Linked DNA regions of Homo sapiens: region 1 is linked to region 2. Evidence: fine-mapped expression QTL. A gene starts in region 2. The other region holds a variant in brackets. All regions are shown on one strand. Distances are from middle to middle. Region 1 overlaps ACSM5 (acyl-CoA synthetase medium chain family member 5). Region 2 holds the start of REXO5 (RNA exonuclease 5).

Region 1 (8,332 bases), 370 kb after region 2:
GGGAGGTGTTTCCAGGTGATATTAGAGATAGAGCCATAGACTAAGAAAATCTGCCCTCACCCACGTGGGCAGGCATCATCCAATCCATTAGGGCATGAAGAGGAGAAAAAGGAGAAAAGAGGAATTTGCTCCTTCCTTTTGGGCTAGAACATCTGTGTTTTCTTGTCCTCAGACGGTGAAGCTCCTGGTTCTCGATCCTTTGCACTCGGACAGGGAGTTATAACATTGGCTCTTCTGGTTTTCAGGTCTTTGGACTCAGATGGAATTATACCACGGGGTTTCCTGGGTCTCCAGCATGCAGATGGCAGATTGTGGAACTTCTCAGCCTCCAAAATCGAGTGAGCCAATTCCCATCATAAATCCCCTCTCCTGTGTCTAAATATGTCCTATTGCTTCTCTTTCTCTGGAGAATGCTGACTAATACAGACATAATACAGCAGTCTTTGGGGATGATGTATGAGTATGTGGAGGAAGAACTAGACATGAAGCAGAGTGTGCTTTCTTTAACATAACTTTTTCATTAAAATAGTTGTATGTGCTTCGTACAAAAACTTGGAAAATACAGAAATGTAATGGAAAAAGGAAGAAGAAAAACTACCATCCATTATTTTCTCTCCCTCCCTCCTCAATCTCCAGGAGGATTACAATTAACCACAGTTTTCCCTTTATTTTTCAGAGTTGGGATTCTCCAGTATGAATATTTTTGCTCTGATTTTTAAAATTAATATAGCTTACACTTTTCCCAAGACATACTAAACTGCTCTCAAATATTTTAGTGGCTACATCATATGTAATTGAGTTAATCTACTACAATTTTGTTAATCATTTCCTTGTTGTTTGGATGTTAATTGTTAATTTTTTCTTTTTTTTTTTTAGTTTTAATGCTGTGTGATCATCTTAGTGCACCACACATTTTCTGCATTTTGATTTTTTTCTTTTGTGGTGACTCCCGAAGATAGAATTTCTGAGCTAAAGGATATTTTATTTTATGTTCCTGCATACTTTTGCCAAATGGTTACATACAAAGGATGAAGCCTTTACATTCCCACTGGCAGAAAATGAGTACCCACAAGTGCCCCAAGTCTATGGTAACCTGTCCTATGGAGGGAAATCTGAAAGCTCTTAGTGAGACCAGTGGGCAGATGCTGAGCCTGCCCCCAGACAGAGGGAGAAGTCGAACCACCAAGCATTTGCTAGGCGGCGCAGCATCTATGTGATCAGGGCCAATGATATTCTTTTGCTCTTTCCAGCATTGCCCAGTGATCCTGGGGATGCCGTTTGGAAGCTGCACACCTTTGACATCTTTAGGGTCGAAGAGATGATGCTCCCCATGGGGACTGACCAGTGATCCATTAGTTTCTTGTGGAGTCTTCGGAGGTCTACGGGGCCTTCCTGGGGTGCACCTCATTTCCCCCACTCCTGACTTCGCAATTTACTCCTTTGGATCTTTCCAGAAACCGTCTTTGGCAGTTCTGAAACAAAGGCCACCTAGTGACCAAACACAAAACAAAAAACACTTGGAAATCATCATTTCTCAAAAAGACTTTTGTTTTGAAAGAGACAATACTGTCTGCCTGTCCTTGGAAAGCGTCCCTGATTCAGGGTTTCCCCCTAAATGGCCAGAAGCAAAACAGCTGGAGCCTGGAGCACAGGATCATTTTGACAGCATTTGAGCACTACCTCTTGTATCTGATTTGTGGTAGGGATCAGGCTGTTCTTAGAGTAGGAACAAAATGTGCTTTGGGGAGAATCCAAGTGAAGAAATACAGAAAAAAGCTGAAGCAGCAGCCAGGGTTACAAGTTTCTCCATATCCCCAGTGCCTGGCACAGGGCCTGGCTCTGAGTGGGAGCCCAGGCAGAGCGTGCCCATCTGATTCCCAGATCACTGTGCCCTGGAAACCCTGATATTTACCTTCCTGGGGTATTTGTATGGAGCAGTCACCCTTTTCACATGCTCCTGGAGTTCCCGCGTTAGTGCCTCTGGGTCATGAGAGGAGTAGGCTGGAGTAAGGACTATAAATGCCTTTACCACCTGCAGGAAAACAAAATACCCAGAAAAGATCAGGCCTCGTATAACAACTCTTTTCTCCTTAAGTGAGGCTTGAATAAGTGCCTACATTTACCTTTGCACCATGAAAGTTCTACTAGTTTTTTTTGGGCACAGCCAATGACACAAACAACATCAATTTTTCTTTTGCTGGCCCTTCCAGGTGTGACTATTAGGAGGATTGACCTTTCTGGGATGATTTCAAACTCCTACCTCTTTCTCAAATTACTCCCCATACTTGGAATGACACCATTTGAAGCCAACATCGCTTCTCTTAAGAAGCAAATATTTTGGAGAAAAGAGGTTCATAAACTCCTAGGGCCATTTTCTTCCAGATTTTCCTAATGAGAAAGGTAGGTAGGCATGAGTTTGAACAGGTGGGATTGAGGAAAATGCAGGCACTTGCAAGGGGAACTAGGTCTTTGGGGGTCTGCGTGGATGAACATTTGCAATCAGCAGACCCTGAACTGCACCACTTCTGTTCCAGACATCCCGAGGGACATTCTGCATCTTGGGTCTCTCTGCCCACAACTTTCCTGCAGGCTGTCTTATGCCAGGCAGGAGGAAGTGTCCCAGACTCAAGCACAACAAACATAGTTTCTGTTAGGAATGGAAGGTCACTTGGATGCTTATTAATTCCAGCATTCCTATCTGTTAACAGTATTCTATTAAAGGGGTAGCTCACTGTCCTTGCATACTTCCCACAGGGAGGAAGGCCACTATCATTTCATGTTCAGACAGATATGCTTTTAGAAAGAGCTTCCTCTTACTCTTACTACTGTAACTACGAAACATTTGTTGGACACTTTTTTTTTTTTTTTTTTTTTTTTAAGACAGAGTCTCACCCTGTCGCCCAGGCTGGAGCTCAGTGAGGTGATCTCGGCTCACTGCAAGCTCTGCCTCCTGGGTTCACGCCATTCTCCTGCCTCAGCCTCCCGAGTAGCTGGGATTATAGGCGCCCACCGCCACGCCTGGCTAATTTTTAGTATTTTTAGTAGAGATGGGGTTTCACTGTGTTAGCCAGGATGATCTCGATCTCCTGACCTCGTGATCCACCCGCCTCGGCCTCCCAAAGTGCTGGGATTACAGACATGAGCCACCGTGTCCGGCTTATGTGTTGGGCACTTTCTACACACCAGACTCAGTTCTAAGCACCATACATGGATTAAGTTTGAGCACACAGCCATTTGTCACAGTCCCAGTTAACTCACGGCATGCAGAACTAGGCATACGTTTGAGGTATGATTTCTTCAGCACATCAATGGGACTCCACACCTCCCTTATTATACATTAATGGCTTTGGATTTTAGAGGGGAATCACTTGGCCAAGAATGGCTGGCTAAAATGCAGATTCTCTGGGCTGCATTCCCAGTAATCATGATTTGGTAAGTCTGACTTTAGGTCTACAAATCTATATTTTAAACAAGAATCTCAGATGATACAGTTGCAAGCAGTCCAAGAACCAGACTTTGAGAATCTCTCCTGTGGTCTTGATGCTTCTGAGAATGCAGGCTAATGTTGCACTAACTTTCAAAAGGTAACTGTTGTGCTTTAGGATTATGTTGGATGTAAGCCAGTGAAAAGTACCTAAGTCTGCCTGTTAGCTGATCTTTCCCATAATATGCATTCCTCTGGGACCCACAGAAAGATTTCTCCTAGCCGGGCACGGTGACTCACGCCTGTAATCCCAGCACTTTGGGAGCCGGGGTGGGTGGATCACCTAAGGTCAGGAGTTTAAGACCTCCAGCCTGGCCAACAAGGCAAAACCCTGTCTCTACTAAAAATACAAAAATTAGCCAGGTGTGGTGACATGTGCCTGTAATCCCAGCTACTGGGGGGGGTGCTGGGGCAGGAAGATCACTTGAACCTGGGAGGCGGAGGTTGCAGTGAGCCAAGATCATGCCACTGCACTTCAGCCTGGACAACACAGCAAGACTCCATCTCAAAAAAAAAAAAGGATTTCTCCTATGAAAGCCCAGCTTATTAAATTTGGCCCATCTTTCTGGTATATGTAGGTCATTTTGGATACATATTCTATCCCTCTTAGGTTACAGCCATCAGCAACTATTACTGGTGTGCTTGCTATGTCCTCATCTGCAAATAGAAAAGACTTTTTATTAGACAGGATGGATAACAGAGCCTGCACCTCCCCCAAGATCTCCTGCCCCATAGCCAGCCTCTCTGGGATGTAGTTGTGTCCATTTAAAAGCAAAGTGTTGGTGTTTTCCCATTATGTCCCTTTAGAGAGTAATTGTATCTCTAAAGACATGAAGGCAACGTGTGTCTGATGGTGGCATTTCAACTTTGTGGCACAAGGATGGAGGTGAAATACAGGACAATCTGAGCCTTCCTGCTTGTTCTGCTGGGTGCTAATAGGTACAGAAGCAGGAGGCCATGTTCTTGGGTGCACTGGTTACCTCTCCCCTGATGGGGTCTGGGCTGCTGACCACAGCCGA[C/T]TCCAGGACAGCAGGATGCTCTGCCAGGGCACTTTCCACTTCAACAGGCCCGATCCGGTAGCTGGAAGGGAAAAACAAACTCTTCCAAGTGGGCTTCCCTCAACCCCCATGAAATTTCAAAGGAAGGAGGAAAGTGCAGACAGCTTGACCTTGAAGAATTGATCACATCGTCGTTTCTTCCCATGAACCAAAAGTAGCCATCCTTGTCCATGCGAGCTCGGTCCCCTGTGATGTAAAAGTCCCCTTGTTCTGATGCAGCTGTCTTCTCAGGATTGTCCTGAAAGACAAAGACAACCCGTGAAGGACCCTCTGGGAACAACTGCTAAGGCCAGTTACTGCCCCAGTAGCCCCCTGTAGGAAGCTGGAGACCACTCAACAGAAAGTTCAGCAGTTCCTAAAGTCCCGGCTGCCCAGAGTTCCCCAATGGACAGGGAGTTATGGCCCTGTTTAGTTGTGGGATTTCCCTCTTTTGATTGGAATCAAGCTGCCAGCCAATGGTTAAGGGCAGTCACCCACCACCATCCTTAGAAGGGGGTCTAGAAAGCATAGTTGAAAGCAGGAGGGTGGGCACAGGGCCACTGGCTGTGGTTTTTAGGACAAGAGAACACATGAATACTCTTTGTGCTCAGGAATCACTGAGGGTAGAAAGTGAAGGGCTAGGCCGGGTGTGGTGGCTCATCCCTATAATCCCAGCACTGTGGGAGGCTGAGGTGGGTGGATCACTTGAGGTCTGGAATTCGAGACCAGCTGGCCAACATAGTGAAAACCTGTCTCTACTAAAGACAAAAAAATTAGCTGGGTGTGGTGGTGCATGCCTGTAATTCCAGCTACTCGGGAGGCTGAGGCAGGCGAATTGCTTAAACCTGGGAGGCAGAGGTTGCAGTGAGCTGAGATTGTGCCACTGCACTCCAGCCTGGGCTATAGGGCGAGGCTGTGAGATTGCACCACTGCACTCAAGCCTGGGCTACAGGATGAGATTGCAAGATTGTGCCACTGCACTGCAGCCTGGGCTACAGGGCAAGACTTCAAGTAGGAAACAAAGGAAAGGAAGGGGAGGGGAGGGGACGGGAGGGGAGGGGAGAGGAGAGTGGGGAGGGAAGGGAAGGGAAGAGAAGGGAAGAGAAGGAAGAAAAGAAAGAGAGAAGAAAAGGGAGGGAGGAAAGGAGGAAGGGAGGGAGGGAAGAAGGAAAAGAAAGGAAGGAAGGAAAGAAAGAGAAAAAGAAAGAAAGAAAGAGAAAAGGAAGGAAGGAAGAAGAAGGAATGAAGGAAAAGAGAAAGAAAGAGAAAGAAAGAAAAAGAAAGAAAGAATGAAGAAAAAAGAAAGAAAGAGAAAGAAAAGAAAGAAAGAAAAAAGGAAGGAAGAAAGAAGGAAAGAAGGAAGGAAGGAAGGAAAGAAAAGAAAGAAAGAAAGAAAGGGAGGGTGGGAGAAGGGCTCACCAAAAAGCTCATTGGTGTGGGGCAAGAGTAGAGGAAAGAGAAAAACAATGAAACTCTGATTCTCAAAGTTTCAAAGAAAAAGCTACTACTCAGCAATAAAAATACATGAAACCACACAGATGACTTGCAGAAACATCATACTGAGTAAAAGAACCCAGACAGATAAACTGGAATAGTTTGTGATTCCATTTACATGAAGTTCTTTTTTAAAAATGCAAAATTATTATATACTGACGACAAACAATGTATCAATCGCTGGGTCTGGAGTGGAGAGGATTGCCTGTCAAGGGAGTGAAAAATGTTCCCTATTCGACTGTGGTGGCAGTTACACAGGGGCGGACATGTGTTAAAAGTCATTGACTTACACACTTAACGTGGGTGAATTTTACTGTAGGTAAATTATATCTCAATTCAACAAGGACCTTCTGAGAAAAAAGAAAAAATATAAGCTACCCTAAAAATACATCTAACACAAAATCTCTGAGATGTGTATGGAGAAAACTTAAAACTCTACACAACATTAAAGAAGATATAAATAAAGTGAAAGAAAGACTTAATCGGCCTGGTGCAGTGGCTCATGCCTATAATCCCAGCACTTCGGGAGGCCAAGGCAGGTGGATCACCTGAGGTCAGAAGTTCAAGACCAGCCTGGCCAACATGGAGAAACCCCATCTCTACTAAAAATACAAAAACTAGCCAGGTGTGGCGGCAGGCGCCTGTAATCCCAGCTACTTGGGAGGCTGAGGCAGGAGAATCACTTGAACCCGAGAGGCGGAGGCTGCAGTGAGCCAAGATCACACCACTGCACTCCAGCCTGGGTGACAGAGCAAGACTCTGCCTCAAAACAAAACAAAACAAAAAAGACTTAATTAATAGAGATGTCAATTATCCCTAAGTTGTTTTATAGGCAATACAATTCTAATCAAAATGCTAGCAAACATTTTCCAAGGAACTTGACAAGTTGATTCTAAAATACAAATGAATGAGCAAAGGGCTAAGAATAGGTAAAACACTTCTAAATGAGTTGAATAACAAGGTTAGAGTTGTTCTCCCACATGTGAAGACTTATGGTAATGCTTTTGTGGATAAGACTTTATGGTATCAGTACAGAGACAGAGTAAGTGATCAAGGAAATACAAGAAAGTGCCAAAGCCTATGTATGACTATATCAAACTTTTAAAAAATGATTTATTTATTTGAGATGGAGTCCCACTCTATTGCCCAGGCTGGAGTGCAGTGGTGTGATCTCAGCTCACTGCAACCTCTGCCTCCCGGGTTCAAGCAATTCTCCTGTCTCAGCCTCCCAAGTAGCTGGGACTACAGGTGCCCGCCACCACACCCAGCTAATTTTTGTATTTTTAGTAGAGAGGGTGTTTCACCATATTGGTCAGGCTGGTCTCGAACTCCTGACCTCAGGTGATCCACCAGCCTTGGCCTCCCAAAGTGCTAGGATTACAGTCGTGAGCAACCACACCTGGCCTATATTAAACTTTTATATCTGACAAAATTAGCATGACAGATAACTGGGAAAAGGAGGATTTATTCAACAAATTGGCTTTTCATATAGAAAAAAATAAAATAGACCCCTATCTCATATCATGCATACATCAACCACAGATGGATTATAAACTTAAATGTCAAAAGCAGAATTATAAAACTATTGGAAGAAACTATTGAATATGTGTATTTTCTACCCTAAAGTTGAAAATGATTTTATAAGACACAAAAAGCACTATCCATAACATTTAAAAACTTAATGATTTGATGACATGGAAATAAATGCTTCTGTTCAACAAAAATAGCTTAAAGAAAGTGAAAGAAAGTGAAAAGATAAGCTACAACCAAGGAGGAAGATGTTAGCAACTCTTAAAACAAACAAAGGACCGATATCAAGAATATATTAAGAACTCCTATAGGCTGGGAGTGGTGGCTCATGCCTGTAATCATAGCATTTTGGTGGGCTGAGGCAGGTGGATCACTTGAGCCCAGGAATTCAAAACCAGCCTAGGCAACATGGTGAAACCCCATCTTTACAAAAAAAAAAAAAAAAATTAGCCAGGTGTGGTGGCATGTGCCTGTAGTTCCAGCTACTCAGGAGGCTGAGGTGGGAGGATCAGCTGAGCCCAGGAAGTCAAAGCTGCAGTGGCCATGATTGTGCCACTGCACTCCAGCCTTGGTGGCAGAAGGAGACCCTGCTTCCAAAAAAAAATTGTATTAAATAGTTGCATAATATTTCTGTGTGGTGGTGATATTATGCATTTGAACAAATTCCTGGATTCTTTTTTTAAAATTTTTTCTCTCTTCTTTTTCTCCTTTTCTTTTGTTTTTTTGCTTTTGTTCACAATGCTATAATATAATCCTTTACATAACTAATTTCTGATATTAGAAATTT
Region 2 (8,332 bases):
AGGAGGCTGAGGTAGGAGAATCGCTGGGAGGGAGAGGTTGCAATGAGCAGAGATCATGCCACTGCACTCCAGCCTGGGTGACAGGGCAAGACTTTTGTCTCAAAAGAAAAAAAAAAAGGAGAAAACTAGAATGAATAGAATGAACCCTGTATTACTGGATTTGGATTAAAGTGGAGATACTGATGTGAATTCACATAAGTAAAATACAGAAAAATATTTAAATGTAAGTATGTGTGTGTGTATACACTTTCAACTTACAAAATTTTCAATTTACGATGGATTTATTGGGACGTAATCTTATTTTAAGTGAAGAAGCATCTGTATTAACATCACCATAGCACCCAAATCTAAATATCATTCTACACTAAAAAGAACCAGGTACCCTAAGAGAAATGACTGATTCCAGGCTTGGGGCAGGGAAAGCACATATGAGCCTGGAATATCTTCTTGTGCCAGAAAGTAATGACATGCTCAAAGAATGATGTTGTCATGTCAAAAGGCCACAGAAGCTAGCTTAATGACAAAATCTTGGATATTTAAAGCATCACAATCCAGTAAAAGATAGTAACACACTGAACAAAATAGGTACCACTGAGTTCATCATACTGATAAAAAAGTAAATGCATAAGCCCAAAGTGTTTGAGGAAGCACATTACAGACAGCTGGGAGCAGTGGCTTGGGCCTGTAACCTCAGCTACACTGAGGCTGAGGTGGGAGGATTGCTTTAGCCCAGGAATTCCAGACTAGCCTGGGCAATATAGCAAGATCCTGTCTCAAAAAAATAAGAATGAAAATTACACAGAGAAAAAGATAACTTTAGAGAACTTTAGTAGAAACTATCTTAATCTAGTTATCAAGGTTAATATCACCAATAATGGGACAAATCAAATTGTGTACAATCTGCAAGGGAGCAGAGTATCACTCCTGTGATATTCCTGCTAAAGATGTATATAACCTGAATCTAATCAATGAAGAAACAGACAAATCTAATTTAAGGGACATTCAACAAAATAATTGGCCCAGGATTATTCAAATGCAGTAAAGTCATGAATATCAAGGGAAGACTAAGGAACTGTTTGATGGAGACATGACAATTAAATTTAACACAATTCTAGACTGGATCTTATTGCTAAAAAGCGTTATTCAAACAACTACAGAAAATTTGGATGGCATCTGAGGAGTAGATGGTCATGATATATCCATGGTAATTTCCAATTTTGATGGTTGCATTGTGATTATGTAGGTTTATAGAGAATATATAATAAAATATCTTGAGGGTGGGTAGAAAAAGACCATTGTGTCAGCAACTACTTTCAAATGTTGGTTGAGGGGAGGTTTTGATACTATTCTTACAACTTTTCTAAAAGTTTGAGATTGTTTCAACATAACAAAATATGTGATTGTCAATCTCCTTACACTAACCACATAAACATTAAACATTTTTTTGCAAATTTGATAGGCAAAAAAACTGGAATCCCACTTTAATAAAAAAAATTTTCAGCTGGGTGCAGTGGCTCACACATGTAATCCCCAGCACTATGGGAGGCTGAGGCAGGTGAATCTCCTGATCCCAGGAGTTGGAGACCCTGTCTCTCTTTAAAAAAAAACAAACGAAAAAAAAACAAAAAAAAGCAGTGGCTCATGCCTGTAATCCCAGAACTTGCAGAGGCCAAGGTGGACAGATCGCTTAAGTCCAGGAGTTCAAGACCAGCCTGGGCAACATGGCAAAACCCCGTCTCTACAAAAAAAAGAAAAATTAGCTGGCACAGTGGCACACATCTGTAGTCCCATCTAATTGGTGGAACTGAGGTGGGAGGATCACTTCAACCTGGGAGGCAAAAGTTGCAGTGAGCCAAATCCAGCCTGGGCAACAGAGGGAGACTCCACCTCAAAAAAAAAAAAAAAAAAAAAAATCACATCCCTAATCCCTCTCTCACATATTATAACTTATTTTTATCATTTGTCTCTGCCCACTAGAATATAAGACCTACTAGGGCAGTGAACTTGATTCACTGATGTACCCCAAGCACCTAGGTCAGTGCCCCAGCACATGGCAGACAATAAAAACCAATGAATAGCTGGGTGCAGTGGCTCATGCCTGTAAGAGGCAGAGACAGGAGGATCCTTGTCACACCACTGTAGTCCAGCCTGAGTCCAGCAGAGCAGAGACCCTGTCTCAAACACAAAAACAAACAAAAAAGCCCAATGAACGACTGAAGGGATGAATGAAGTATATTTAGTTCTCAGTAAATGGTAAGGATGATAGGGATAATCAGCCTTTTTATTCCCCTATTGCAGCGGTCCCCAACCGTTGGCACCAGGGACCGGTTTCGTGTTAGATAATCTTTCCACTGACTGGGAGAAGGGCTGGGGGGATGGTTTCGGGGTGATTCAAGTGCATTACATTTATCATTAGAGTCTCATAAGCAGCATGCCACCTAGGACCCTCGTATGCAAAGTTCACAATAGGGCTCACAATAGGTTTGGCACATTCCTATGAGAATCTAATGCCTAGGTGGAGCTCAGGGGGTAACGTTCTATCGGCCACCGCTCACCTCCTGCTGCTTTGTGGCCCGGTTCCTAACAGGCCAGCTGTGGACAGTGGGTTGGGGACCCCATGGACAGGCAGGTACTAGTCTGTGCACAGGGGGTTGGGGACCCCCGCCCTACTGGAATGTAAACTGCACGAGGGCAAGGAATTGTATTTTTGTGCCCCAGGATATCGATGAACATTCCTATTATGTACAGGCAGTTTTTTTTTTGTTTTGTTTTTTGTTTTTTTTTTTTAAGAGATGGGGTCCTTGCTATATTGCCCAGGCTGGTCTTGAATTCCTGGCCTCAAATGATGCTCCCGCCTTGGCCTCCCAAACTGCTGGGATTACAGGCGTGAGCCACTGCACCCGGCCCACCATCCCAGTTTTTTTTTTTTTTTTTTTTTTTCTGAGACGTGATTTCTTTCTTGTTGTCCAGGGTGGAGTGTAATGGCGTGGTCTTGGCTCATTGCAACCTCTGGTTCCTGGGTTCTAGCGATTCTCCTGCCTCAGCCTCCCAAGTAGGTGGGATTACAGTCACCCACTACCACGCCTGGCTAATTTTGTGTGTGTGTTTTTGGTAGAGACGGGGATTTCTCCATGTTGACAAGGCTGGTCTCGAACTCCTGACCTCGTGATCCGCCCGCCTCGGCCTCCCAAAGTGCTGGAATTACAGGCATGAGCCACCGCACTCGGCCGACTCACTATCCCAGTGACAGCCAATGACAGCCTTGTTGCAGGAAGGTGGTATTACACTCATTCCCATTTTAATGATCAGGGATCAGGTTCGGAGAGGCCAGGGCGGAGAGCCCGCCCGAATCCAGTGCCCCCGACGGCGGTTGGGCGAGGGTCCGGGAGCTCCAAACCGCCTAGGGCCGCCTGCTCGGGATCCCCGTTGCTCACCTTGGCCTCGGGCTGACTCTCCTCGAGATCCCAACCGGCTTTCATCGCCTCAGCTGCCCCGACCAGCTTATTTGGGGCCTGCCTGCTTTCCCTGACCTTCCTGGGGTGTCTCTCGGTCCCTTCCCTCTCTGGCTCCATGGCTGTGGAGAAAGATGAGGTAGAGCTGGGGAAACTCCAGCGCCCCTATTCCCCCGCGTGCCGCCTCCTAGCGGGAGAGCTACACGGGCTTGACAGCTTTCAACCTCCCTCGGATCCGCTTCTCAATTCAGTTTACCGAACTATCCCCGTTCCCCTAAAAAAGCGAAGGTGCCAACGATCTCCCCGTTCCGCGGACTGGACACCCGCGCCGCTCTAACCCAAACGGCTTTACCGTCCGCATCGGTTACCGGATTCTCAACGGTTCCCCAACGGCTACAACGGGCGTCTGCCTGGCAAAGAAGGAAGGTGCTGCCGAGCGGCTTCGCCGCCTAAAACCACTCCCCACGCCCCCTAGCCCGGGAAACGCAGAAGAGAAGACGGGCGGGGAGCAGAGGTTCTCCCCTCCTTAGCCACAGCTGCCAACAACAACCGCCCCTCAGCCTCGCGGGCTTTTTGAACGGACCGGAAGTAGAAGTCGAGCGACTTCCGGCAGCTGGACTTGGAAAAGCAAGGAGTGTCGGGAATGGCGACCAAGCGGCTCGCGCGGTACTCGAGGGAGTTCCGGGTCGGGGGCGGGTAGCTCCGGGTCCAGCGCTGGCGTTGGCCGCAGAGCAGGGCACGGCAGGTGGCATCTGCGGTGAGGGCCTCTATTCCCCGCAGCCCCGGCGTCTGCGACCTGCCCTCTCTGGCACGGTTGGAAAGGCGCCTCCCTGGACCTCGGTCTTCAGCCTTGGGCCACCTTCTACCCGAGGGTGACAGGAGCCCGAGGCGGACGAACCCTGGGGCCTTGACTGTGTGGCCTTGAGCCAGTGCCTGCCTATTTTAGGCCTTGGGAAACGACTGGACGTGACAGTGCCCTGCAGACTGGTTGGAGGTCTCAGGCAGGCCACACACTGAATCTGTCAAGGTGTTCAACCTGTTCGAAATGCTCGTTCCTCGGTGCTGTAAAGAAATAGAACTTAAACTTAAATTTAATTTATTTAGTAAGGCCATTTTTACTTCCTGCAGAAAGGGTACACTCGCCAGCAGTTTTGCCAGGAGAGTACACTGAACAAAGGAGACAGGGTCATTTATAACGTGGCGCGTCCACCCTACTGCTGTGTCCGGTTTCCTTTGGCTGGAACGGGACCTCACATTCTGTATTTGTCCCGACTGACTAGCAACATAGAACTTTTTAAAAGAGGCAAAGGCAGAGGAGAACAAAGGAAGAAGGAAGTAACTTGTGGAATGCTGAGAAAGGTAAAAACACTTTTAAGTAAGGAAGAGGAACAGGCTATGACCTAATGTTTGATTGGACCAGTATAAGCATGCCAGGGCAAATATTTAGGCTAAATTGTGGGAGCTAAGAACATAAAGTACATTGATTTCTTTATTATATCTAGCAGATATTTAAGAATGTTAGCACAGGTCTTTGAATAAATTTTGCTCTAAGAGAAGTTACTATTTATTCCTAATTAGACGGGGAAGGAAGTCTTTGAAGAGGAACCTCTACTTTTTACAAACCCATTTTCTAGTGATCTTTTTTTTTTTTTTTGAGACGGAGTTTTGTTGCCTAGGCTAGAGTGCAGTGGTGCGATCTCGGCTTACCATAACCTCTGCCTCCCGGGTTCAAGTCATTCTCCTGCCTCAGCCTCCCAAGTAGCTGGGATTACAGGCATGCACCACCACACCCAGCTAATTTTGTATTTTTAGTAGAAATGGGGTTTCTCTATGTTGGTCAGACTGTTCTCGAACTCCCGACCTCAGGTGATCCACCCGCCTCAACCTCCCAAAGTGCTGGGGTTACAGGTGTGAGCCACGGTGCCTGGCCTAGTGATCCTTTTAATTCACAATATGAATTATTGTGTCCTCCCTGATTCCTGGATGCGCTGTGCATATTTCTGATTACTAGAAAGATGTAATATAATAGCAAATAGCATGAGCTTCAGAATTGGACAGTCTTGGGTTCACATACCAAAGCTATGTTCTTTGGCAAATTAAGAATCAGTTTTCTCATCCATAAAATATAGGTAGGAAAAGTTTCTAGCTACTACACTTGTTGAGGATTAAAGGAGGCCATCATCTTAGTTTAATTTTAGTACCTGCTATGTAGTAAGCAGTCAATAAATGATATTTATTATTCCCAAATCCTGGCACTTCCCACTCTTAGCAAACACAGAAAACTACAGGAGGTGTCTGCCTAGTTAAAACTCTACCTGCTAATACCAAGTAGTTTGTTTTACTTGCACTTAAGACCTCAGTAAGCTCTTCTCTTTTTTTCTTATTTTATTTTATTTATTTATTTTTTTGAGACAGGGTCTCGCTCTGTTGCCCATGCTGGAGTGCAGTGGCATGATCTCGGCTCACTGCAGTCTCCACCTCCCGGGCTCAAGCAATCCTCCCACCTTAGCCTCCTGAGTAGTTGGGACTACAGGTATGCACCATCACGCCCCAGCTAGGTTTTATAATTTTTGTAGAGACGGGGTTTCACCATGTTGCTCAGGCTGGTCTCGAACTCCGGAGCTCAAGCAATCCACCTGCCTTGGCCTCCCAAAGTGCTGGGATTACAGGCATGAGCCACTTTACCTGGCCCTATCTTTTGTTTCTTTACCCAGATTTTTAAACTGGAAGACTGAACCATGTCCTACATTGTCTTGTCTTCTTAAAACTGCACTGTACACATAGCAAGAGCTTAAAAAATGCAGGGGGAAAAATAAGATTTTCAGTGCATTTTTACCTCTACAATCAAATGATTGTAGGAACTCAAATGAGTTACTCAGTATTACTGTAAAACAAGGGTAACATAAAATTAGTGTAAATTGGCTGGACACAGTGGCTCAGGCCTGTAATCCCAGCACTTTGAGGGGCTGAGGTGGGAGGATTGCTGGAGCTCAGGAGTTCGAGATGAGCCTGGGTAACATAGTGAGGCCCTGCCTTCAAAAAAAAAAAAAAATTAAAACTAATGGGCCGTGGTGGCATGCATCTGTAGTCTTAGTCAGGAGACTGTGGTGGGAGGATTGCTTGAGCCCAGGAGATTAAGGCTGTAGTGAGTGGTGATCATACCACTGCACTGCAACCTACGTGACAGAGCAAGACCCTGTCTCAAAAACAAAACCAACAAATTAGCCTAATTTGCAAATATGTACTTTCGAGGCCTGTGCAGGTAAAGCCAAAGTCCAGTTCGATTTCCCCTCAGTCACAATAAATAATGAGATTGTTGCCCAGTACCATTAGTTTGGTAGCCTACTCAAACAGGAGTGTGAATGAGTTCATTGATCATATTTGGATTGCTTCACATTTTTAGGCAGCTTGGATTAATTAGGAGAAAGTCAATTGCGCCAGCAAATGGAAATCTCGGAAGAAGCAAATCCAGTGAGTAGTATGCTTAGTTTCTTTGCATTTTGTAGCCTTGCATTTTCAGCACTGGTAAAGCATAAGAACAACTTGATCTTTTGCAGAGCAGTTGTTTGACTACTTAATTGTCATTGATTTTGAATCGACATGCTGGAATGATGGGAAGCACCACCATAGCCAGGAAATAAGTAAGTCTGGGCTACGAATGGCCAAAGCTGGCACTAGATGAGTCACTTTAAAGTTTATAGATCTGAATCAGCCAAAAGTTTAAGAAAACAGGATGGTCTATGCATTGGTAGTTTAATGCAAAACTTATGTTGAATAAAAAAGAGCAAAATCTCAAATACCTAAATGTGTTATTATATAAAATAGTTGTTTTATATTACATACAACACCTCAATGGCATAGAAACTGAAAAAAATGCCTTTGCAAAAAAAGTAAATTTTATATTCCATATGGTTTTTATATTTATTTAATTATATTGTTTTCTTTTAAGACAACATGCTCATAACTTCAATATTTTGACTTTAGCATAACTTTATTATAACCTTTATGTCACACTGCTTTGGTCATTTTAGTATGCTTTTACTGAAAACTGGTTGTTTAATTAAAATGGTAACATGTTTAATTTAGGATGATTACAGGATTAATTTAAAAATTATTTATTCAACTGTCAATTGATTATTCTTTCATTTAGTTGAGTTTCCAGCAGTGTTGCTGAACACATCAACTGGACAGATTGACTCTGAGTTCCAGGCTTATGTTCAACCTCAGGAACATCCAATTCTTTCAGAATTTTGCATGGAATTGACAGGCATAAAGCAGGTATGATGCAAATCTTAAAATTCAGAAGTCAGTTTCAAAAAGAAAATAAAAGTTATTATACCATTTGAAATTAGATTTATTTAGTGTTAGGCATGATGGCTTATGCCTGTAATCCCAGCACTTTGCAGGCTGATGTTCGAGAATTGCTTGAGGCCAGGAGTTTGAGACCAACCTAGACAACATAGTGAGAACCCCATCTCTAAAAAAAAAAAAAAAAAAAATTTAAATTAGCCTGACTTGGTGGCATGTGTCTGTAGTCCCAGCTTCTTGGGAGGCTGAGGCTGAGGTGGGAGGACCACTTGAGCCCAGGAGTTTGAGGCTGCAGGGAGGTATAATCTCAGTCTATCCTGGGTGACAGACTTTGTCTCTGAAAATAAATGAATAAATAAGTAAATAAATAAATAAGATTAGTGTTATTCCAGATTCAGGACTCGATTTATGTATTTATTTATTTATTTTTCAGACAAAGGCATGCTCTGTTGGCCAGGCTGGAGTAAGGTGGCGGGGCTCACTGCAACCTCTGCTTCCTGGGTTCAGGCGATTCTCATGCCTCAGCTTCCTGAGTAACTGGGACTATAGGTACACACCACCACATCTGGCTA

The links.
Region 1: its variant is fine-mapped to the expression of REXO5 in T cells (TOPMed, PIP 0.93).

What each region holds. Positions count from the first base shown.
Region 1 is chr16:20,433,500-20,441,831 of GRCh38, reverse strand. ACSM5 (acyl-CoA synthetase medium chain family member 5) reads right to left here. Exons shown (of 14, transcript NM_017888.3): 11 at 4,653-4,780; 12 at 4,465-4,564; 13 at 1,913-2,032; 14 at 496-1,488. The coding sequence ends at 1,405. It overlaps LOC105371119 (a long non-coding RNA gene), which reads left to right. Exons shown (of 4, transcript XR_007065019.1): 4 at 246-439. Among named protein-coding and RNA genes, the nearest start is that of ACSM2A, 14 kb to the left of the region's middle. The variant C/T (reference allele first, on the strand shown) is at 4,504.
Region 2 is chr16:20,802,194-20,810,525 of GRCh38, reverse strand. REXO5 (RNA exonuclease 5) reads right to left here and starts at 3,999. Exons shown (of 20, transcript NM_030941.3): 1 at 3,821-3,999; 2 at 3,435-3,574. The coding sequence starts at 3,572. ERI2 (ERI1 exoribonuclease family member 2) reads left to right here and starts at 4,054. Exons shown (of 9, transcript NM_001142725.2): 1 at 4,054-4,118; 2 at 6,856-6,923; 3 at 7,010-7,093; 4 at 7,603-7,730. The coding sequence starts at 4,096. RefSeq lists enhancers at 3,195-3,334, 4,055-4,164, 3,913-4,858.